Homo sapiens: one gene and its partners. The protein of the gene in region 6 purifies or fractionates together with the protein of the main gene of each other region. This does not show direct contact. Each region holds a gene or a part of one and is shown on either strand. Other genes may lie near its edges. The genes, in order: ALDOB, ALDH2, ALDH5A1, IMPA2, TEC, RPE and UPP1.

The links.
Region 1: the proteins of RPE (region 6) and ALDOB fractionate together in Homo sapiens (co-fractionation; one large-scale study listed by BioGRID). This does not show direct contact.
Region 2: the proteins of RPE (region 6) and ALDH2 fractionate together in Homo sapiens (co-fractionation; one large-scale study listed by BioGRID). This does not show direct contact.
Region 3: the proteins of RPE (region 6) and ALDH5A1 fractionate together in Homo sapiens (co-fractionation; one large-scale study listed by BioGRID). This does not show direct contact.
Region 4: the proteins of RPE (region 6) and IMPA2 fractionate together in Homo sapiens (co-fractionation; one large-scale study listed by BioGRID). This does not show direct contact.
Region 5: the proteins of RPE (region 6) and TEC fractionate together in Homo sapiens (co-fractionation; one large-scale study listed by BioGRID). This does not show direct contact.
Region 7: the proteins of RPE (region 6) and UPP1 fractionate together in Homo sapiens (co-fractionation; one large-scale study listed by BioGRID). This does not show direct contact.

Annotation. Positions count from the first base shown.
Region 1 is NC_000009.12:101,425,775-101,429,274, forward strand, and holds part of ALDOB (fructose-bisphosphate aldolase B), read right to left. Parts: intron 2,750-3,500; coding exon 2,695-2,749; intron 1,869-2,694; coding exon 1,708-1,868; intron 865-1,707; coding exon 781-864; intron 1-780. UniProt on the Homo sapiens protein: Catalyzes the aldol cleavage of fructose 1,6-biphosphate to form two triosephosphates dihydroxyacetone phosphate and D-glyceraldehyde 3-phosphate in glycolysis as well as the reverse stereospecific aldol addition reaction in gluconeogenesis.
Region 2 is NC_000012.12:111,790,933-111,794,432, forward strand, and holds part of ALDH2 (aldehyde dehydrogenase, mitochondrial isoform 1 precursor), read left to right. Parts: intron 1-373; coding exon 374-487; intron 488-1,128; coding exon 1,129-1,231; intron 1,232-1,665; coding exon 1,666-1,850; intron 1,851-3,500. UniProt on the Homo sapiens protein: Required for clearance of cellular formaldehyde, a cytotoxic and carcinogenic metabolite that induces DNA damage.
Region 3 is NC_000006.12:24,518,969-24,522,468, reverse strand, and holds part of ALDH5A1 (succinate-semialdehyde dehydrogenase, mitochondrial isoform 2 precursor), read right to left. Parts: intron 2,069-3,500; coding exon 1,925-2,068; intron 1-1,924. UniProt on the Homo sapiens protein: Catalyzes one step in the degradation of the inhibitory neurotransmitter gamma-aminobutyric acid (GABA).
Region 4 is NC_000018.10:11,998,507-12,002,006, forward strand, and holds part of IMPA2 (inositol monophosphatase 2), read left to right. Parts: intron 1-547; coding exon 548-681; intron 682-3,500. UniProt on the Homo sapiens protein: Phosphatase that can use myo-inositol monophosphates, myo-inositol 1,4-diphosphate, scyllo-inositol-1,4-diphosphate, glucose-1-phosphate, beta-glycerophosphate and 2'-AMP as substrates in vitro.
Region 5 is NC_000004.12:48,263,339-48,266,838, forward strand, and holds part of TEC (tyrosine-protein kinase Tec), read right to left. Parts: intron 1-3,500.
Region 6 is NC_000002.12:210,012,638-210,016,137, reverse strand, and holds part of RPE (ribulose-phosphate 3-epimerase), read right to left. Parts: intron 166-3,500; coding exon 26-165; intron 1-25. UniProt on the Homo sapiens protein: Catalyzes the reversible epimerization of D-ribulose 5-phosphate to D-xylulose 5-phosphate.
Region 7 is NC_000007.14:48,106,265-48,109,236, reverse strand, and holds the end of UPP1 (uridine phosphorylase 1), read right to left. Parts: intron 2,365-2,972; coding exon 2,155-2,364; intron 1,877-2,154; coding exon 1,730-1,876; intron 1,020-1,729; coding exon 880-1,019; 3' UTR 501-879; downstream 1-500. UniProt on the Homo sapiens protein: Catalyzes the reversible phosphorylytic cleavage of uridine to uracil and ribose-1-phosphate which can then be utilized as carbon and energy sources or in the rescue of pyrimidine bases for nucleotide synthesis.

The DNA of each region.
Region 1 (3,500 bases), on a different chromosome or scaffold from region 6:
TAGACCAATGTGTTGCAATCCATAGCCACTGAGCACAACTAAACTGGCCTGTCTTCATCACCCCTAATCTAGCTTCTCATTCACTGCATGAATGACAGGCATGGCTCTGCTTCCTAGAAGCCCTTCATTCCTTTATTTCCATTACTCCCTTGGTCAATGTCATTCCTTATTGAGACTGCATTGCTTTAGCTATTTGGGGTCATCTAAACGGGCCTCCACTGTCCATGTTTACAGAAGCTGAGTAGTCATAGAATCATACATTTTAGAGGTGGAAGTGCTCTTAGATTGCATTTCAGTCCACATAATTTTCCAAGTAGAGAAACTAAGGTCAGGTGACATTATGACTCTCCTACTTTCTCACAGTGTATGAATAGAACCACCCTCTTTCAGATCCACTGTGGCTAATTTAGAAAGTCAGATGGAATAAAGTACTTTCTAATTACATCTTCTCATTTGAGCCACATGTCTTATTTTAAAATTTCTTTGTGTACATGTAATTGAATTGAAGTCAAAAGAGATAATATGACTTGCCCAAGATCCCACAAGTGGAAAAGCGGATTCTCCAACCCAAGTCTTGGTACTGCAACTCCTGTGCTTTTTCTATATGGAGTATACCATGTGCCAAAAAGGTGAAGGGCTGATGAGCACCTCCCTACCTTCTCTATGCTATCCATCCTAAAGGCTACTTCAGATATAACAGCTGTTATATGTTAAGTAACAGCTGTTACCTAAAACTAAGATTTTTCAACTAGAATTGGGGCCTTCATATTTAAAACTTACCTTCTCAGTAACATACTGGCAGTGTTCCAGGTCATGGTCTCCATCAGGAATTACCTCTGGTTCAACAATAGGTACCAGTCCATTCTAAAAAGGAAAATCAAGGAAGCAAAAGTGAAGCTGTGCTCACTGTTATCCTTTCCTTAGGAGGAGATTCAACAGTTGCAATTGGTATAAATTGAAGCCATTATGGAGAAATACTACATAGATGACTTAAAGACAGTAGAATTTTTCAGAATGAGATAAAAAATAAATACAAACCCGTAATTACTGTATTTCTTTCTAGAGATTATTCTAGCTGCCTCAGAACCTAGCTACTGCCTTTTTAGGGCATCTAAGCATAAATCATTAAGAAAGATGTCTCTAAGTTGGGTTAATGAAGAAATTCAAGCAGTGTTTAGAGTTCTAATTGGGGATCTCCAGCTGTCCACAACTCTAGTAACCCCAACATAGTACTCACAGAAGAAAATCAAACTTAACTCGGACCCAGAGACATTTTAGTATGTGTTGGAAACTTTAGCATCTGGTCACCATCCTCCAAAGAATTATTTGGATTGGAACTCGGTCAGAGCTGTCACTCTTCAGCTAGGAATCTAAGAGGATCATGTCTTGGATGTTACGGAGTATAGACAACCAAGTTCCCTGCCCTCAAAAGCCCGATCACTTATAAGACAGCTTATGGAGCTTTGACAGAGGGCAGCAGTTGATGGCATTATCCTTTGAACTCATAGCTTAGTTGGACTCCTACTGGCTTGTGGGACCAAATCTTTCCCTACCACAGTTGGCTATAGCAAAAGTTGTGAAAAATGCCACTAGGATATACTGGTGAGGGAAAAGGAGGTCCATTTGTAGTTATAGTATAATTGAAAAGAAAAGCTCTGAAGAAAACTCTAGCCTACTCTTTTTCAGCCCAAGGGGAAGGCAGAGCACCTGCTGACAGATGCTGGCGTAGCGAGCCAGGGCGTTGGCGTTTTCCTGGATAGCGAGGCTGGATGGACACTGGTCGGCAATCCTCAGCACAGCACGCCACTTCCCAAAGTCAACACCATCTTTCTTGTACTGAGCACAGCGCTCTGAGAGGCCATCAAGCCCTGCAAGTCACAAAAGAGAGAAAGGCTTCTTTGTACCTTTGTACCTGATCCATGGGGCTTCTAATAAAGGGAAGGAGTTCTCCCTTTGCTTAGCTTTCAATCCACTGTGCTTGAGGATTGAAAACAGCCAAGCATATCAGCATTAATCACAACACTGAACCAGAAGACTTAGATTTAATAAATAGTGTTTTGACATACATACTATCTACTCCATATATAGAATAGAAGAAACCAATAGTTAATATGATACTCATTTTACAAAGGTGGAAACTGAAGCTCCTAATGGTTAAGCAACTTTACCAAGTTTGAATTGCTCAAGAGTGACAGAGCTGGGATTCAAATTCTGCTTAGCTAACCCAATGTTGTGAGTTAATGCTTGTCTACTTGGGCAGAAGTACCTTGCAAAATTATCTAGGTAGCATGTGATAGAACCAGGATTCAAACCCAGGTGTGTCTGACCTCAAAGTGTGGGGACTTTCCACTCTACTGCTGCTAATTTTTTTCTAAAAATAATACTTCCGGGTGCAGAGTTTAATCTTCTTTGTCCAAGGTACTGTGGTAAGCACCTTATGTACATTGTCTAAGTTAATCCCCACAACATTTTGAGAAATCCCCATTTTGAGATAGGAGAACTGAGGCTCACAATATTTCAGTGACTGGCCCAAGGTCACAGTTGTTAAATGGAGGAGCTGGTATTGAAAACCAGGTACGTGTGGCTCTAAGACCAGTGTAATAGTTGTGTTTTGTTTTTCCTTGCTTCCTTCTTTACTTGCCTTCATTTCTAGCTTACACTGGCATGATTCATCTCAGTGGGCAATATCCTTACCTTGAATGGTGGTTTCTTTGTTTGTTCCTGCAAGAGGAGCACCTCCTTGGTCTAACTGTGGATACAAATAATTAACAGGTGTCAGATGTCAGGAAAACACAAGCAGAACTCTTGAACTAACTAACAGTTTGCATCTTTTACAGATCAAGGAGTTGAATTAGTAAAGTGTATTAGTGCGAGGGACCCAGTTCAGTCCATAGCAGAAGGGAAGTTACCTAGAAGGTACACTGTGAGAGTGTCTACCCTAACATTTATTGAGCACCTGCATGCACCAGGTGTTGTGTTAGTACAGGAGGTAAAGAGAATTAAGGATACAACCTCTACTCTCTACATAGCAAAGGCAAAAGTCATGAGCTTGAGAATTAGCCTAAACTGGCTCTGACCTTGCCTTGTTGTGTGGGCAAGTTATGTTACTCTTCGTAGTTCAGTTTTCTCACTTCATCTCTAAATAAGGGTAATAATTGAGTCTACTACCAGAGGTTATGAGAATTAAATGAATGCTTGGAATGGTAAAAACTCTTATTCAATGGATACTAGTTTTCACTTTTGAGAAGTTTATGCACTATTGGAAGACCTAGTTATAAGATAGAATAGTAAATGCTTCAATAATTATGATAGTTACCATTAACAATAATTACGCAATATAAACTTTTTCTTTTCTTTTTTCTTTCTTTTTTTTTTTTTTTAGACAGGATCTTACTCTTTTTTTTTTTGAGACAGGGTCATCCAGGCTGGAGTGCAGTGGTATGACCATAGCTCACTCCAGCTTCGACCTCCAGGGCTCAGGTGATCAATCTTTCCACGTC
Region 2 (3,500 bases), on a different chromosome or scaffold from region 6:
CAACTACTTGGGAGGTTAAGGCAGGAGGATCACTTGAGCCCAGGAGTTTGAGGCTGCAGTGAGCTGTGATCACACCACTGCACTCCAGCCTGGGTGCCAGAGAGAGACTCGGTCTCAAAAAACAAACAAAAACCCACTGTTGTTCTAAGTGAATGCTGTCAGGGGAGGGGCAAAGACACAGGGAACCCCAGCGAACAGACTCCTTCTCCGTCCCATTTAGAATTCCCATGTAGTGCCCCATACAATTAGCTTCTGACCACATGTGTCCTTGGCAGACTGTCCCACCCTCTCTGAGAAAGGATGTGTCTTCCCCTGGTTGAGCCCTTCAGAATAGGAGGGTGACTCCCAATGTCCCCTGGCTGTTTGCTCACAGGCTGGCTTTCCCCCTGGTGTGGTCAACATTGTGCCTGGATTTGGCCCCACGGCTGGGGCCGCCATTGCCTCCCATGAGGATGTGGACAAAGTGGCATTCACAGGCTCCACTGAGGTAAGGTGACCCTGGCCTCAAGCTTGCAGCCTCCTTGGCCCAAGCTCCCCCTGTCCTCAGTGGACGACATGCTCAAGGTGAGCTCCCGGGTGTCAAGCGGAGGCCTTTTCCTCCAGGACGACCCTGTAGGTACCAGGAGGGGTGGGGCAGGGTTGAGCCCTTCGTGGTCTGGTTGCCACACTAGCTGCCCTTGGGAGGGGCCAGTGTCCCATGTGGACTAAGGAGGCCAGGCCTGGCCAGACTCCACATAGCCCAGAGCTGACCGCTTGCCCCAAATCAAAGCATCTTGGCCAGGTCAGACTCCTTGACCAGGACTGCCATTGTGGTTAAAAATTAGCCTTGTGTGGTGGTGTGTGCGTGTGGCCCCAGCTACTTGGAAGGCCGAGGCAGGAGGGTTGCCAGAGCCTGAGAGGTCAAGGCTGCAGTGAGCTGAGATCACGCCACTGCACTCCAGCCTAGGTGACAGAGCGAGACCCTGTCCAAAAGAAAAAAAAAGTGAACGTCTATTTGGTGAAATTCTCTAGGTCTCTCGTGGTCCAGTTGCTCACTCAAGCTGTGGGGGACTCTGTTCTGTGTCTATAGAGTGCTGGACTCTTTTCTCCCGGCACTGAGAGCTTGTTCCTGTCTTTCTGTCCCCACAGATTGGCCGCGTAATCCAGGTTGCTGCTGGGAGCAGCAACCTCAAGAGAGTGACCTTGGAGCTGGGGGGGAAGAGCCCCAACATCATCATGTCAGATGCCGATAGTGAGTTTCCAGCTGGAGAAGGCCTGGCCTTGAAGGTAGCCCTGGCCACCTGTGTTGTGGCTCCAGCCGATCCTGTCGCCCCCCCAGTGCCCAATGGCGTTGGTTGCTGTCCCTCGGGCCTCAGGATAAGACGCCAGCGCAGGGCCTGCATGGCCTGGCCTTGGCCTGTCCCCAGCCTCTCCCTGGCTGCTCTCTGCATCATCAGGCTAGGCCACGCCCCTGCTATCTGACTCATCCACTTGCCGCCATCACGCCCTTTGTCCTGGTTGGCAGTGGGCTCCGAGAGCACCCCTCATCTCCCTGTATCTGTCTCTGGCACCCAGCAGGCATCAACCCTTACAGTGGTGGGAACAGGCTCCATTGGGCAGGCGGCCACCAGGGCCAGGGTCCTCCTCCTCACTGTCACCTTTCTGTCTCCTGCCCACTTCCCGCAGTGGATTGGGCCGTGGAACAGGCCCACTTCGCCCTGTTCTTCAACCAGGGCCAGTGCTGCTGTGCCGGCTCCCGGACCTTCGTGCAGGAGGACATCTATGATGAGTTTGTGGAGCGGAGCGTTGCCCGGGCCAAGTCTCGGGTGGTCGGGAACCCCTTTGATAGCAAGACCGAGCAGGGGCCGCAGGTGAGCCAGGCAGTGCCGCAGGGTCTGGGTGTCTAGAGCCAGCATGAGAAGCAGAGAGGGCATCGGGCTCAGATCAGTTGGGACTGGGTTCAGGTCTCAGCTCTACCACACAGCAGCTGTGTGCCTTTGGGAAGCTATGTTCCCTCCCTCAGCCTTCATTTCCCCATCCCGAGCCGTGCCCTGCCTCATTCACAGGGTGGCTGTGATGTAGAAATTAATCCTGGGAAGCACTTTGTAAATTGCATATATGTAACAAATACCAGGAGTGTCTGCAAAAGGGAGTGTGTGTTTCCAAGACCTTGGTCATCAGTAGAAGTGTATCCACCAGAAGATACACAGCTCTGTGAACCTTCGTGTCTGAGAGCCATGGTATGGCTAGTATAGGGACTTTATTTCACTTCATGTTTTGAGCTGTTTGATTTTATTTATTTATTTATTTACCTATTTATATTTTAGAGACAAGGTCTCTCTTTGTTGCCCAGGCTGGAGTGTAGTGGTGCAATCATACCTCACCTCAGCCTTGAATTCCTGGGCTCAAGGAGTCCTCCTGCTTTGGCCTCTCAAAGTGCTGGGATTACAGACATGAACCACCACACCTGGCCTGGATTTTACTTTTGAGCAGTTGTAGGTTTATAGAAAAATAGAGCTGAACGTACAGAGGGTGCCCATATATTCCTTCGCACCTCCCTGTTCCACCAGTTTCCCCTTTATTCACATCCTGCATGAGTGTGGTTCATCTGTTAGTATTGATGAGCCAATACTGGTACCTTATTATTCACTTAGGTCTGTAGTGTATATTCGGGTTTTTTTTTTTAATTTTTATTTTTTTTGGAGACAGAGTTTTGTTCTGTCACCCAGGCTGCAGTGCAGTGGCACGATCTCGACTCATGCCTCCCGGGTTCAAGCAATTCTTGTGCCTCAGCCTCCTGAGTAGCTGGGACTACAGGTGCGCACCACCACGCCTGGCTAATTTTTTGTGTTTTAGTAGAGACAGGGTTTCACTCTGTTGCCCAGGCTGGTCTCGAACTCCTGAGCTCGGGCAATCTGCTGTCAGGCACCCAGCCTCGGGGTCATTTTTTGTGTTGTACTTACTATGGGCCTAGACAAATGTATCATAATGTGTATGATACCATCATTCTAGTATCATATAAATATATTTGTGCCCTGAAACCCCCGTCCTCCACCTATTCTTCCCTCTTTTCCTCCCCTGAGCCCTGGCAGGCAACCACTGATTTTTTTTTTTTTTTTTTTTTTTGAGACAGAGTCTCGCTCCGTCACCAGGCTGGAGTGCAGTGGCGTGATCTCGGCTCACTGCAACCTGTACCTCCTGGGTTCAAGTGATTCTCCTGCCCCAGCCTCCTGAGTAGCTGGGACTTACAGGTGCATGCCACCATGCCCAGCTAATTTTTGTATTTTTAGTAGAGACAGGGTTTCACCACGTTGGCCAGGATGGTCTCGATCTCCTGACCTCGTGATCCACCCACCTCAGCCTTCCAAAGTGCTGGGATTACAGGCGTGAGCCATTGTGCCTGGCCGATCTTTTTATTGTCTCTATAGTTTTGCCTTTTCCAGATTGTCTTATACGAATCATACAGTAGGTAGCCTTCTCAGACTGGCTTCTTTCTTTTAGCAGTTTGCATTTCTGATTCC
Region 3 (3,500 bases), on a different chromosome or scaffold from region 6:
AAAAAAAAGCCACCCAATCCATGTTTTTTTCAAATGGCTTTTATTTTGTTTCCCTGGGGGGTGGGGAAAGAGTGCAATTCTCCTAGGAGACTGTGATGCTGCAGCAACAGCAGAGGCTAAGAGGAATGTGGTCCAACACCAACTTATAGTCTTTTGTTTTGCTGACACAGGGTCTCGCTCTGTCGCCCAGGCTGGAGTGCAGTAGTGATGAGTTCACTGCAGCCTTGACCTCCAGGGCTCAAGTGATTCTTCCACCTCAGCCTCCCAAGTAGGTGGGACTATAGGCACTTGCCACCATGCCCAGCTAATTTTTAATTTTTTTTGGCTGGGCGCAGTGGCTCATGCCTGTAACCCCAGCACTTTGGGAGGCTGAGGTGGGTGGATCACCTAAGGTCAGGAGTTCGAGACTAGCCTGGCCAACATAGTGAAACCCATCTCTACTAAAAATAGAAAAATTAGCTGTAGTCCCAGCTACTCAGGAGGCTGAGGCAGGAGAATCTCTTGAATCCGGGAGGTGGAGGTTGCAGTGAGCTGACATCATGCCACTACACTTCAGCCTGGGCAACAGAGTGAGACTCTGTCACACAAAAAAAAAAAAAAAAAAAAAAAAATTGTAGAGACAGAGTCTCACTCTGTTGCCCAGGCTGGTCTCCAACTCCTGGGCTCAAGTGATCCTCCTGCTTTGGCCTCCCAAAATGCTGGGATTACAGTTCTGAGCCACCATACCTGTCCCCAAGTTGTAGCCTTACAGTGTAATTGATGGTAACATATATTGACATTTTGTATTTATGAAGGAAAATATACTTATTTCAGACAAAACCAAGCTTATTTAGGTTATGTGGAAGGGAAAAACTTAATTACCAAAGGCCAAGGCAAGGATGAAAATTATTTGATAGAGAATATCACACATTTCAGTTTTTTCACAATATAACCTTTCAGGGATATTTACTCTGTTTCTAGAATGCATTTAAAATTACATATTGATGGTACTTTTAAGATGAATGCTTAAGAATATTTAAGAAGGCAGGACCCTGGCAGCAGCTTGGATAGAACTGGAAGACAGGAGCCTTGGCTCAGAGTCCCAGCTCCTCAGCAGATTTGACACTGTGGCCCAAAGACGTCTGATCTCTAAGTCACTTTTTCTTTCTAGAGTTTCATTTCCTCATCTCTAAAATGCAACGTTTGTAGAGCTGATAACTGTGAAGGTCCCTGACAGATCAAATATTCCAGGATTTCCTAGGAAGACATGAGCTCAGGCCTCTGGTCTCCCAGGACAGCCTGGATGCTCCTCTAAAACACTGCTGGCGTGGGCCTGTGCCCTGTAGAGGGCACCTCTGAGGCTCCCTCCATCTCGGGACAGCGAGGCCCCACTGGGTCATAGCAGGCAACAGGGTTTTGAGTTATTCCAGCCACCACCCTCCTCAACATTTTCTTACTTTCTTTCCCTTGGCCTCAGAGACCCCAATTGTTCAAGGCTGTTCTGTGTCTGAGGAGATTATATCCGTTCAGTAGAAAAAAGATCAATGAAAGAAAACTATAAAAATAACCAGATTAAAAGGATAGGGGAAAGAAGAAAACAGAGAACAATTTGACTAAAGGACATCTGCTGTTCAGAAAATTATTTGAAGCCAGGGACTGTACCTTATTTTGGGGGGGCCCCTCTGAGCCTAGTATAACCCTGGTAATAAAAAGTAAGGCATATACTAAATATTTGCTGAAAGAGTCAATGAATAAAGAATGAATAATGGAAGGAACCCAAAAGTTTCCTTATGGGATATAAGGCAGTAGAGGTGGTGGGATCTTTGTAACACACACACACGCACACACACACACACTCACATGCACACATATCACACACACACACATACACACACTCACACATGCACACGCAAACACACATCCTGAAATACTCTCCAGGACTCACCTGTCCAGTGTTCCTAAATTTAGATGCCATGGCCCCTGCTACAGCCTGGTCCACGTTGGCACTGTCAAATACTATAAATGGAGCAAGGCCGCCCAGCTCCATAGAGACCCTTTTCACAGAGTTTGCTGCGTGGTGCAACAGGATCTGTGAGCAGAGGAGAGAAAGCTGTGAGCACAGAAATCCATTACCAGGATTGTTAAGCCTTTGTTTAAAAAAATTACCAAATGGTGAAAAAAGCAAGGTGCACAGTGGTGTACATGGGATAACTTTGCATAAGAAAACGGAGAAATAAGAATATATATTTACATTTGCTTGTATTTGATAAAGAAACATTGGGAAGAGGCTGGGTGTGGTAGTGTGCACCTGTAGTCCCAGCACCTTAAGAGGCTGAAGTGGGAGGATTACTTGAGGCCAGGGGTTCCAGACCAGCCTGGGCAGCATAGGGAGACTCCATTTCAAAAATTAAATAAATAAATAAATTAGTAAAATAAACACTGGGATGACAAGACACTAAAAGTCATTATTTATAGAAAGAGGGAGTGAGTCAGGGTTGGGGTAGGGTGAGACTTGTCATGGTAAACATTAATACTGTCTTAATTTTTCAACCATATAAGTAAGTGTTTATCTATTCAAAACAATTATATGATGGGCTTAAAAATCATAGAGATAAGAAAATAAAATCACCTAGAATCCCACAACCCACAGCTTACACTGATAACATTTTAAAGTACATCCATTTAGAATGTAGCCATGCAGATTCAGGTACATGTACATTTAAAAAAAAAAAAACAGGATGGTATAATTATATAATTATACCGTTTCGTAACCTGCTTTATCTTCCCAATGAATCACATATTTGGGACGTCTATCTTAAAATTTTCATAACCCTTTATATCTTGCTCCTTTAATGTAACACTCTAATGTGAAGATCCTCTTGTGTCAGCACATATGTTTCTAGAACTTTATTTATTATTATTATTGAGATGGAGTCTCGCTCTGTTGCCCAGGCTGTAGTGCAGTGGCGCAATCTCCAGTTACTGCAACCTCCACCTTCTGGGTTCAAGCAATTCTTCAGCCTCAGCCTCTTGAGTAGCTGGCATTACAGACATGTGCCACCACACCTGGCTAATTTTTGTATTTTTAGTAGAGATGGGGTTTCGTCATGTTGGCCAGGCTGGTCTTGAACTCCTGACCTCAAGTGATCTGTCTGCCTCAGCCTCCCAAAGTGCTGGGATTACAGGTGTGAGCCACTGTGCCCGGCCTAGAACATTCCTTTAGATGCTTGCATAGTATTCCACTGCATGGCTCTTCTGTAATTTATTTATTCAGGCCCCATCTGTTGGACATTTAGGTTGTTTCCATCCTTGCCATTAAAAAAACGCTGTGGATCGCGCCACTGCACTCCAGCCTGGGCTACAGAGCGAGACTCCATCTCAAAAACAAAACAAAACAAAAGACAAAAACACTGTGATGATTCTGTCAGGATGAACATGTAGAATTGCTAGCTCAATGTATAATCATAAGGCTTTTGGTACCTATAGCTATTATAGTTTAAATATCCAGTAAGAGATTTCAT
Region 4 (3,500 bases), on a different chromosome or scaffold from region 6:
TTTCTCAGTGGGAACATTTACAATCAGATTCGAGGGCATATCCCATTTCATGGGATAAAGTGAATTAGGGAAAATAAGCTTTTACTTTACACTGAAATCTCCTAAATTTGAATTCATGGGATTATACAGGGCACAGGTGTGTAACATGATCTTGTTTTGGGCCGTTCTTACAGAGGAAGTTTCATGCTCTTTTCAAAACCCCTGTGTTTTTCTTTTACTCGAAGAGAAGTTGTTTCACAGGTGCAACAAAATAATTTTGAAATAATTTCAAGTAATGGAGAAATAATTTTTCTTGTAAAAGAATAATGGTGGAGTCATTAAGGCTCACTAGAAACCCAGAGAGCCTAGGCTGTGATATTAGCTCTGAGGTCAATGATGCAAGAAGTCAGTGACCCACAGAGCCACACCTGCTGCCCCCGCCGCCCCCCCCCCCCCCCCCCACCCAATGGCAGGCTGAATACAGAGGGGACTCGAAGGAGTGGATAATTCCTTTGCCTGGGAGGAGGATGTTTGCATGTTTAACCCAAATCCCGTACTTTTATTTCAGATCATCAGAAAAGCCCTTACTGAGGAAAAACGTGTCTCAACAAAAACATCAGCTGCAGATCTTGTGACAGAAACAGATCACCTTGTGGAAGATTTAATTATTTCTGAGTTGCGAGAGAGGTTTCCTTCACACAGGTAGGTGTACTCCTCTGGGAAACACCCCCAGTAACCCTGGCCACACTCATAGAGAATGCAGGGTCTGCCGGGGTCAGGGGGCTCTGCTGTTTGTTGATGTGGCCAGACGTGAAGCCCTAAGCCACGCAGCCTAACCTGCGATTTGTCAGTTACTTAGTAAGCAAACTCAGCCCTGTTTTCATTCTTTTTACTGTCATCTTAACAACCATCACGTCAATGCATCCTCTTGTGAATATTGAAGCAGCTCTTTTTACAACACATGCTCAGGAAAAGCTCCTTGCACCCCTGTACTCAACCATTTGTTATTTCTGGAAGGACCCACTAGAAGTGTGACCCACCCTAAGAAGCCTGGAGTGGTGATGTCCCCTGGTGGCCTATGCCTGTTCAGCTGCCTGGGCAACTTTCCCAGGAGGATGGGATGCCAAGTGGCACTGGCAGCCGCGTGGGGCCCCCGGCCCACCACTAGTGCTTAGTGATGCACGCCCCCTCGCCCAGGCCAGAGGGCGCAGTGGGAATGGCTGCCACAGCCGGGCCCCAGAGCTGTCCCTGCAAGAGGCCTGTATGAGCACCTCTTAACCTTTTTGGGGTCACCCTTTGAGTATTTGATGCTAGCTATTAATCTTTTGTTCAGAAAAATTAAAATATTTACACAGCATTTTGCATAGCATTTTAAGGGAGCCATGAACCCCAGATTGAGACATCTTCTTTAACTCTGGGGGGCTCTAAGGCCCCTCTCTCACCTCTAGAGTTCTGCAGTATAAATGCTGAAGACCATGCAAGGGATCTTTTTTCTTCGTTACATAGAATCTTTTAAAGATGTTGGATTCTTAAAACTGGAATACCAGTTATTGGATTTCTGGCTGTAGGGTATTATAACTGTCAGGTTCCAGGTTTAGATGGACTTAGGTGGCAGAAATATAGATGGTACTCTCCCTCAGTGTCCATTCAGCACATGGTAGGCTTAAAATACTTTTCTTTACATTTATTTTTATATATTTTTTAAGAGATAGGGTCTTGCTCAGTTGCCCAGGTTGGAGTGCAGTGGCATGATCATAGCTCACTGCAGCCTTGAACTCCTGGGTTCCAGTGATCCTCCTGCTTCAGCCTCCTGAGTAGCTGGGATTACAGGAGCCACTCCACCTGGCTCTTTTTTTTTTTTTTTTTTTTCTGTGAATGATTATATAAATGAAAGAACAAGCGAGTGTTAAACACTTACCTTCTTTTTTTTTCCCGTCGTTTCCTTCTAACTTGTTAGGTTATCTCAAGGTTACCAGCTCTCCCTCTGAATTTCTGTTTGCCAGTCGCTCATGTTTGTTTTGTTGACAACCTTTGAGTTTAAGCTTCTCTAACTTCCTATTTCCCTACTCTGCTTGAGGTCAGGATCCCAAGAATTGGTTACAGTAGTTATAGGGTGTAAAGTGTTTGTGATTTTTTTTTTTTTTTTTTGAGATGGAGTCTTGCTCTGGCGTCCAGGCTGGAGTGCAGTGGCGTGATCTTGGCTCACTGCAAGCTCCACCTCCCGGGTTCACGCCATTCTCCTGCCTCAGCCTCCTGAGTAGCTGGGACTACAGGTGCCCGCCACCACGCCCAGCTAATTTTTTGTATTTTTAGTAGAGACGGAGTTTCACCTTGTTAGTCAGGATGGTCTCGATCTCCTGACCTCATGATCCGCCCGCCTCGGCCTCCCAAAGTGCTGGGATTACAGGTGTGATCCACTACGCCCGGCCCCAGTGTTTGTGATTTTTAAAAAGCCTTTTAAAACCTAATTTTAGGGTGGCTCACACCTGTAATCCCAGCACTTTGGGAGGCTGAGGCGGGCGGATCACGAGTGAGGAGTTCAAGACCAGCCTGAACAACATGGTGAAACCTCGTCCCTACTAAGAATGCAAACATTAGCCGGGTGTGGTGGCGTGGGCCTGTAATTCCAGCTACTCGGGAGGCTGAGGCAGGAGAATTGCTTGAACCTGGGAGGCGGAGGTTGCAGTGAGCCGAGGTCACACCACTGCACTCCAGCCTGTGTGACAGAGCAAGACTCTGTCTCGAAAAATAAATAAATAAACCTAATTTTAATCAAAGGGCAATAGCAAAAGAATTTATCATATGGATTCTTTGAGAGGAAGCATGCTGCAGTAACGAGCCGGCTGTTTCCAGGTCCTTTATTAACCATATTGGCCTAGAGGTTTCTGCGGTGATGATCCGTGTGGCCGTGGCATGGGAGGGCTGGCTCATCTGCGTGGGGTCTGGTAAAGGCTTGGAGGAGATGCAGGATCAGGCACAGTGAAGTTATTGGGGCTGTGATGTGTTTCAGTCAGGTCACTTGGACAAACTGCACTCTGAGATTGCACGCAACCCACTGTTGGGTTAATGTGTGCAGTTGGTTCCATTTGTAAAAGGTAAATTTAGATACTCGCTGTTGTGTACACAAGGTAAAAGTTAATGTATTATGGGGTGAGCACAGGTACCTCCCTCCACCCTTGAGGCCTTAGGGTTGCCAGGGACCGCCAGACTCCAGAGTTCCTTGGGAAAACCATGATGCAGAGCAGGGGATTATAGGTAGGGTGAGACAGGCTTACCTGGGAGCGTGCCCGGGCTGAACACCAGCCTCCATCTCTGAAAAGGCCCCCTGGTAGGGTCAGACCCACACACCTGTCCAGGAATCAGTGATTGAAATCTGGGGTTCCCAAGCTCTAGCCCACAAGTCAGTGGACTGTGGCTGCACCACGGACAGCCCCAGTCTGTGTGTCACCCCCATCTTCCCTAGCTCTGAGGGTGAATGTGTGGACACGGTGAAAGCAGCTGTTCTCTTCTCTGCTCAGTGT
Region 5 (3,500 bases), on a different chromosome or scaffold from region 6:
AGAAGCTGCACTTCACTGAAAGGTAAAACATTCAGAGGTCAAGATGGCAGAAAGAGTCATCCTACACAAAGTGAATTCAAGAAACAGGAACAATAGGCCAGGCGGTGGCTCACACCTGTAATCTCAGCACTTTGGGAGGCCAAGGCAGGCAGATCACCTGAGGCCAGGAGTTCGAGGCCAGCCTGGCCAACATGGTGAAACCCTGTCTCTACTAAAAATACAAAAATTAGCTGGGTGTGGTGGCGTGCACCTGTAATCCCAGCTACTCGGGAGGCTGACGCAGGAGAATCACTTGAACCCAGGAGCTGAGATCATGCCACTGCACTCCAGTCTGGGTGACAGAGCGAGACTGTCTCCACCCCCGCCAAAAAAAAGAAAAGAAAGAAAGAAAGAAACAGGAACAAGGGCTCTATGCCAGTAATCTACGTACCACCCAACCTAAGATATAGGTTTTGCCCCCTATGACAACTATGATCAATTGGTAGTGTACACTTAGAGTTGTATATGAAGGCATCTGAGGTCCAAACTCGGCTCAGCGGCCCAGCCTGATCCGAAAATGTTTCCTGTGGGTAGAGGAAGGGGAAAACAGCAACACACTGCTATGACTGAATGGTGCCAGTCTCTGGATAGAGATTGGTAAAGAAATTATACTCTAGCCACTATTAGCAGACTGGACAAAAACCTCTACTTTCTCTCCCTTCTGAAAGCCTAAGACAATGACAATAAAGAAATTTTTTTATTTCATGTATAAATCAGCAAGGATGGAGAGAATGAGTGAAGAGACAATAGCAAAAACATTTTGGTGGAATAAGCAGAAGCCAAGAAATAATCTGATTTACACCATGGAATCTCCAAAAGGTTAAATAATTAAAGGCAATTGAACCCTCTATAAAAAGAGGGGTGGGCTAAAAAATTAGTGACTTTTTAAAGTCTTTTTAAAAAGCTGGATCCCACAGATCCCTCTGGCCACTCCAACCAGTTAGGTGACTGCCCCTTCTCTACCCCAGCAAAAAACCTGGAGTTTCCTCCCTACTCCTTCACCCTTCAGGGGGTCCGTACACAAACAGCATGGAGGGGTTATATGCACATCTACATACTGGATGCTGAGACTTCCAGTCTTCTTTTCCACTTACTGACAACCAGGCTCTCTGTCAATCTCTGGGGAAAAGAATGGAAAAGGCTTCTCTGAGGACTCTCACCAGCCCAAGAGGTAACGACCACAGAGGTTCCCCAAATAAAAAGCCCAGCCAGATTCCCCCTACCATGAATTCCCCAGTCGACAAGCTCATCCACATCTTCAGCATTTTTTTTTTTTTTGAGACAGAGTCTCCCTGTGTTGCCAGGCTGGAGTGCAGTGGCATCATATCGGCTCACTACAACCTCAGCCTCTCAGGTTCAAGCAATTCTCCTGCCTCAGCCTGCTGAGTAGCTGGGATTACAGGCACACGCCACCACGCCTGGCTAATTTTTTTTATTTTTAGTAGAGACGAGGGTTTCACCATGTTGGCCAGGCTGGTCTTGAACTCCTGACCTCAAGTGTTCCGCCCACTTTGGCCTCCCAAAGTGCTAGGATTACAGGCGTGAGCCACCCTGCCTGAACCCCAGACCTTCTGCTTTTTAATCCCCCTCTGAAGTGTGAGTAGATAACCAAGGGCATTAGTTACACAAGGAAAACTTCTAACATGAAAGAGAAGAAACCTAAACAAATGAAAAGACAAAAGCCGCTTGGGAAATTCAATCTGTGCAGGAAGGAAAAAAAGTTGCTCCAAAAAATCATTAAGCTTCTTAGGGAGAAAGGAAAAGACACTGACACTATAAAACAAAAACCAGAAAGAAATAGACACACAAACCACACACATACAAATATATATGTATATATTCAGGCAACCAAAAAAATAGAGATTTTGATTTTAAATATTCATGATTACAGTCATGAAAAACTTATTTTTGGCCCAGTCAAAAATAGCCAATATCTGAACAATATGAGCTTCTCACAGACACAGAAAATAGAGGGGGAAAAATTACCAATGAGATAGATATATATATATATGTGTGTGTATATGTATATATATACACACACATATATATACACACACACATATATACGTATATATATACATATATACACACACATATATACGTGTGTGTATATATGTGTGTATATATATATATATATATTTTTTTTTTTTTTTGAGACAAAGTCTCAATCTGTTTCCCAGGTTGGAGTACAGTGACTCAATCTCAGCACACTGCAACCTCCGCTTCCTGGGTTCAAGCAATTCTCCTGCCTCAGCCTCCTGACTAGCTGGGATTACAGGGGTGAGCCACCACGCCCAGCTAATTTTTGTATTTTTAGCAGAGATGGGGTTTCACCATGTTGTCCAGACTGGTCTCGAACTCCTGACCTCAGGTGATCGGCCTGCCTTGGCCTCCCAAAGTGCTGGGATTATAGGCATGAGCCACTGCGCCCGGCCACCAATGACATAATTTAAGAAAATTTCCCAAACTGAAGAATGAAAGTTTCCAGATTCAAAGAGCCCAACACAATGCATGAAAACAGACCCAAACCTAGGCACAGTGTCGTGAAATTTTAGGACTGTGGAGGCCAAGAGAAAATTCTATAAACTTCAGGGAGGACCCAGCAAATTGTAACCTGTACACAGATTACAAGAAAAAGCTGAGGAATCAGTAGAGTTCTAAATTTCTCAACAGCAATACCACAATGTGGAAGTCAATAGAACAATGCCTTCAAAATTGCCATCTTAGAAATCTACACTCAGTCAAACTATCAATTGTCAGTTGAAAACACATTTTCAGGCATCTACAGTCTCAGAAAAGTAGACCTCTAGGCATCCTATTCCAGGAAGCTCCTTTAGGATGGGCTCTACCAAAAGAAGGGAGTCAACCAAGACTGAGGAAGACATGTGCTACAAGTACCAGGAGATCCAACACAAGAGACAAATGATGAGAATCTCCAGAATGATGACAAAGGGAACCCTTGGGGTGACAAGTGTGCCAATGTACCAAAGGCACCCAGTCTGGATTATAGCAAGCCAGTAGGCTCAGGAACAGCTTCTTGAGGAAAACGAAATTGACAAAATACCTGGTCAATTGAGGGAGAATTTGGAAAACTGGCCAAGAGCTGTGGGTTTAATCAATGAAGAGCACAAAATAAATAAAATGAACAAACAAATCCATTATTAACTCCAAGGAAAATAAAAAGTTATGTTTGGTCACGCCTGTAATCCCAGCACTTTGGGAGCCCAAGGCAAGTAGATCACCTGAGGTCACGAGTTTGAGACCAGCCTGATTAACATGGAGAAACCCCATCTCTACTAGAAATACAAAAATTAGCTAGGCGTGGTGGCACATGCCTGTAATCCCAACTACTCAGGAAGCCGAGGCAGGAGAATCGCTTGAACCCGGGAGGCAGAGGTTGTGGTGAGCCAAGATCGTGCCATTGCATTCCAGCCTGGGCAACAAGAGCAAAACTCTGTCTC
Region 6 (3,500 bases):
AAACACTCTCATCACGATTTCTTACCTTCATCCCATTCTCCCGAATGTCTTTAATCAAAGCCCCTGGGTTCTCAGTAGCCTCGAGATGAAAGGTGTACTGATTGGCTCCTGCTACAGCCATTGGCTTTACCCACTGTTCTGGCTTGGACACCATCATGTGCATGTCTAGAAAGAAAAGACACTTCAAAATATTACTGAAAAATACCTGGCTCATGTTATTGGAAGCCAACCTGTATGTAGTTTTTGCCACTTCTGATAAGAACTCTTTGGCCATCACACAAATCATTATTTAAATAGTTCTAATTCAGTATAGGTAGTTTCCTCTTATTTTGAAGACAAGGATTTATTTAAATTCATTTACAAAAAACACTATTTTCCCACAAAAAGCATACAGTGCTGTATATAAAAAGTTAACATCTAAAAATCAGGAAATCTAGGTCCAGGTCCAGGAAATGCCACTCTAAAAAACTTAAAGAATAAGTCATACTATCCATGCAAACTAGTTTCCTCTAGGAAAAATTAAGTGATCCTTTTCATTTATTCTTTCAATTTATCGAGCTATTGCTGCATCATTAATTATTCTAGGTCCTAGGGTTAGAGCAAAAACATGAAACTCTCCTGTCATAGGGATTACATTCTTAATGCGAGAGTCAAACAATAAACAAAATAAGTAAGTAAAATGCACACTAGGTTGGCAGTTAATATGGCTGGTGTGCCTGGGGAAGGAGATACACCAGTCAGAGGTCAGGGAAGCATGTGGTGAGGAGAAACCCTTCAGCATTCTGCAGGCCACTGGGAAAAACCACCACAGTGAAGTGACAAGATACTATCGACTGAGGAAGCTACGATAGCAATAACCCAGGTGAAAAATGATGGCAGCAATTCGGGATGGATATGTTCTTAAATAAGAGCAAAGAGAGCTGAGGATAGATGAGATGTGGAGGATAAGAGGATCCTCCATGGATAGATAGATGAGAGGAAAATAAAGATGGCATCAAGGATTTTGACCTTATCAACTAGAAGAACGGAACTGCCATTAATTGAGAGGCAAGACTGCAAGAACAAATTTAGGGGGAAGGACATGTTGACTGCAAGAAACCTGATATTCATCCTAATTCTAAAGCTTGATTCATATAAACACATAAGGTGAAAATGGGCATGGCCTTCTTAAAGATCTTGATTTAAAACATAATAGCATTTCATAAGAAGGAGAGGGCAGCTTAAAACAAGCTAAACCAAGAAATAACACTGTGAAGAATCCTGTGTTTGATAGATGGTAGTGAGGAGAGGTTTTAAGTTTTTTATTTTGCTAGAGGAAGCACATTTCTGAAACAGCCAAGCTATATTTAAGAAAAAAATTCTAACATTTCAGAACAATTATGAAATACAATAAAGCCTTGAAAAAAAAAAGTCAGAAAAAGAAAGTATAAAGCTTGACTAATAAAGTCAAGATTAACGTTTGTATTTCTAATCCAGCAAAAGTAATTGTATGAGAACTTTTTTTTTTTTAATAGAGATGAGTTCTCACTGTTTCCCAGGCTGGTCTCGAACTTCTGGCCACAAGTGATCCTCTGACGCTGGCTTCCCGAAGTGCAGGGATTATAGGTATGGGCCACCACACCCGGCCTAAATTAGAACATATTTTAATAGGTAAAACTTTATTCTTAAAAAAATGTATTAAATCTGGTGTTTCTTATTCTTTGCATCATAAACAAGGAAAATTCAAGCCGGTTTAAAATACCTACTCCAGGCCGGGCGCGGTGGCTCACGCCTGTAACCCCAGCACTTTGGGAGGCCAAGGCGGGTGGATCACGAGGTCAGGAGATCGAGACCATCCTGGCTAACACGGTGAAACCCCATCTCTACTAAAAATACAAAAAAATTAGCTGGGCGTGGTGGCGGGCGCCTGTAATCCCAGCTACTCGAGAGGCTGAGGCAGAACAGCGTGAATCCAGGAGGCGGAGCTTGCAGTCAGCCGAGATCGCTCCACTGCACTCCAGCCTGGGCGACAGAGCGAGACTCCATCTCAAAAAAAAAACAAAAAACAAAAAAACCTACTCTATTCATTCCTTAAGTTACCAGACTGCTAGCTATGTCATCCTTACTCAACCTCTAGCATCCAGTAACCACTAGCAACCCTCAATGGAGAAGTTCTATGGTGTTCAGGGAGTCAATGGTTCAGCAAATCTGTGCATAGTTAACATTAGATCAGCAATTCCCAATCATTCTATCATCTATTATAATCATAATCTATTATTCATAAACTTGGTCAACAATATGCTGATTAAAAAGAATCTAAGGTCTATTAAATTCTAAGTTACATTAAAAAAACACTATATATGGCTAGGTGCGGTGGCTCAAGCCTGTAATCCTGGCACTTTGGGAGGCCAAGGCAAGTGGATTGCTTGAGCCCAGGAGTTTACACTCTTAAAAATTATTAAAGACCCCAAGAAACTTCTGTTGATATGGATTATATTTATAGATATTTAATGTATGAGAAATTCAAACTAAGACATTTTAAAGCATGTAATTTTTGGCGGGTTTGGTGGCTCACACCTATAATCTTAGGAGGCTGAGGAGGGAGGATGGCTTGAGCCCAGTTTGAGACCATCCTGGGCAACATAGTAAGACTCCTTCTCAACAACAACAGAATAATTAGCTAGGCATGGTAGTGTGCCCCTGCAGTCCCAGCTACTGGAGGGGAGAGGTGAGGTGGGAGGACTGCTGGAGCCCATCAAGACTGAGGCTTCAGTGAGGTATGAAGGCCACCACTGCACTCTAGCCTGGGTGACAGAGCAAGACTGTCTCAAAAAAAAAAAAAAAAAGGATAACTCTATTACCTATTAATTAAGAGTGGTATTATTTGTTTTACATTTTTGCAAGTTTTCAGTGTCTGGCTTAACAGAAGACACCTATATTCTCACATCTGTTCTGTATCTAATCTGTTGTAATACAGATGTTCTGTAACTTACAATGGGGTTACATCCCAATTAACTCAATCTAAATTGAAAATACTGTTATCTCTAACTGCATTTAATATACCTAACACACCAAACATCATAGCTTAGCCTAGCCTATCTTAAATGTGCTGGGTGGTAATTTTATAAAGGTTAGCTGCAGTGTGCACTCTGTAAACCCTATCAATGAGCTTTTCATTCTTTGTTACATTAAAACCCATTGTTTGTCTTGTATTTTGAATGGGTCTTTTAAGTACTGATTTACTGAGTTACACACATCTTACAAATAGTGACAGATTTCATTCCATAGTACCCCAAAATCACATTTGGTAAAATAACTACAGATCTCATCAGAAAAGCTTGTTAACTGTTGGGACGCTATCAAACCCAGAGTGGTAAGATACACAAGTTTTTTAAAATTCTAATTTTGGGAACAAAAACTGACAAGGTATCTTTCCTTGAAGAGACAGCCTCATTTAGTTAATATTTTTTAAATGTCATTAAAATAGCCAGGTCTGAAAAACCATAGTTGATCTGTCAGTT
Region 7 (2,972 bases), on a different chromosome or scaffold from region 6:
AGAGTTGAGAAGTCAGCCAGGAGCCTGGGCAACCCACAAGCCAGTGAAGACCCAAGACCCAGCTGCCCCTGAGCTGGGGACCTAGGCCTGCCCAAGTAGCTGCTGCCAGACTCACCCGAGACAGACAGAGGGGCCACCCTGGATTCTCCCCTCCACTATAAGGTGCAACCGAGAAGGAAGCTAAGAGACACGGAGTCTAGGAATGTCAGTGTGAGGCCAGGAATGAATGCAAGGCTGACAAGCCATGGACAGAAACAATAGGACAAGCTGTCTTGAGCCCAGGTGTCCCGTTTCCCATCCCTAGGTACTTGGATCAAGACACTAGCATTGTGGACAATGGGTGGGAGGATTACTGTCGTGTGATTAAGCTGGTGTGGATGGTTTTGGGAATGTGTGTGACTATAATTTGGAAACTGTGTATATGCCTGTTTAGGTACGCATTATTTCTCAAACACCCCTGCTGTCTGCTTCATTGGTTTTCAGTCATCTCTCATTGCAAGTGGTGCATGGAATTTTTTTAATGTATCAGGAAATTAGTTTCCTGGCACTATTGTCAGATTTCTTGTTTAGTGACATGAAATCTGACTACCATTAGAATTTTAAAGTCTGAAAAATTTCCCTAGAAATAGTACAAAAATTTGGTAGAATGTTCTTGAAGAAACCCCAAATCAGGCTAACATCATTGAAAATGCTCCAATGAAACTTCAAAAGGAAGAACATCTCCCATGCGGTTAATCCAAGATTCTCTGTCTCTTAATCGCGATCTGATTTTCTAGATTCTTGTGTAAAGTGTGCTCAAAGTCCACACAACAGGGGATTTTGGACAATGCTTTTAATGGCAAGTCATCACAGCAGGTCTGCGGAGGTGCAGGGCAGCGCTCAGGCCTTGCTCAGTTTCTTCTTGATGAAGTAGCTCACCAGCCGCTGCGGCCTCTGCTGGTACTCGCTGAGCACATTGCGAGGGCTGCTGATCTGGTCCCCTTCCAGGCGGTTCAGGAGGGTGACACACACCACGGCCGCTGCAAAGGACAAAGACCACATCAAGGCAAGGTGCCGGGGGTCTAACATTTCACAGGGACGGGATGAAGAACCCACGAGCTCTGAGGAGCAGCCTCTCTGCCTCCTCAGGAAACCAGGCTGCCCATGCAGTCAGGCGGGGCCGGAGGATGGAGTGCGGGAGGGAAAGGCGCTGGTCCAGGGGCTCGGAAGACTCCTCCCTCTCTGACACCACCCTGCCCTGTCCCTCCCTTATTCTCGTGCCTGCTTCCAAAAGGAATTCACCATTCCAGGACCAGCTCAGGGCTGCAAGCACCACCTTGAAAGGCACGTTTTGGCCGAGGTGATAAGGGAATTCTGCAGAGCTGTGAGCTGGCCTTCAAGGGTGGCTAGTACCTTGAGGGTAGATGAACCACAATTCAGAAAGCCAAAGCGCTTTGAAAGCCGAGTTTTTTATAGACCTGGTGGCAGCCTCATGGGGCAGCAAAAGCTTTTTTGTCATTTTTCCTGCACAAGGTCACTGAGAATCCTGCATTTTGTCAGGGTGTGACAGTCAGACATTGAACAGCATTGTGGTGACAACACATATGTCAGAAAGTGACTTGGGGGCAGCGGAAACAGAAACCAGAAATGGGTATCGGGGTGCCCCAGGAGGAGGGGCCCCAGCGAGGGGCTCCAGGAGAGCAGAAGTGAAGGGAGGAGGGGACGCCGAGGCCCATCAAGTGCCGCTTACCTTGGAGGCCGCAGGCGCTGCACATGGCGGCAAACACCGAGGACTCCATCTCGATATTGCGGACGCCGGCTGCATAGGCTGCCTCCAGATACGCCTGCTTGTCCTTCTCCGTGTAGGAGCAGAGAGCCCCATCCAGACGGCCTTGCCCTGAGGCACACATGGAGACATGAGAACCACATGCATGTGAGAAGCTCCTACAACACATCAGCGCCACTGATGCCCAGAAGGACACAGGGACAAGCAAGACCCATCCAGGTCCTGCCTATAATGACCACTCAAACGGGTCATTATAACCACTCTGGGCGAAGTGTAACTGAGACAGCAGCCTGGCAAGTGGAAACGCCAGTCCACAGCGAGAAGGCAGGCTCAGGGGACGGACCAGGGTTCCCTGGCTGAAAGATGCCTCCTCGTATCCGCTGCCTCACCTTCATAGAAGTCCAAGGTGCACATGGTGTTCCCCACCACTGTGGTGAACTCGCTCAGCTCTGCAGAACACAGCAACAGCTCCTGCACCAGCTTCTTGTTAAGGTCCGTTTTCCGGATGACCCGCTTCCCCAGGACAATCTGCTCAAACTCTGCCTTGAAGCAGGTATCCACTGCCTGCTCTGTTATGACCACAGTGCCGGGCTCCAGACCTGAGGAAAAAAGCAGACATCAAGATATGCAGGGTGTAAAACAAAATAAAATTAAAGCAGGGCAGCCAGGGAGCACACAGCAGAGCATATGGAAGAAAGAAGCAGATCCACCCACACATCCAAACACGAAGCATCCAGTACTGTTCTCAAATACACAGTGACCCATTTTTCCCATTCAACTTTTTTTTAAGCTATGAAAGTAATTAATGCATGATCATTATGGACACTATGGAAGAGAAAGGCACAAAAAACAAAGTAGAGGGCTGGGTGCAGTGGCCCACGCCTGTAATCCCAAGCACTTTGGGAGGCCAAGACGAGCAGATCACCTGAGGTCAGGAGTTCAAGACCAGCCTGGCCAACATGGTGAGACCCCATCTCTACTAAAAATACAAAAATTAGCCAGGCATTGTGCCGGGTGTCTGTAATCCCAGCTACTTGGGAGACTGAGGCGGGAGAATCACTTGAACCCAGGAGGCAGAGGTTGCAGTGAGCCAAGATCACGCCACTGCACTCCAGCATGGGCAAAAAGAGCAAACTCCATTTCGAAAGAAAAAAAAAAGAATAAAATAAAAATGGCCAGGAACCTTCAAGTACTTTGTCCCATATTT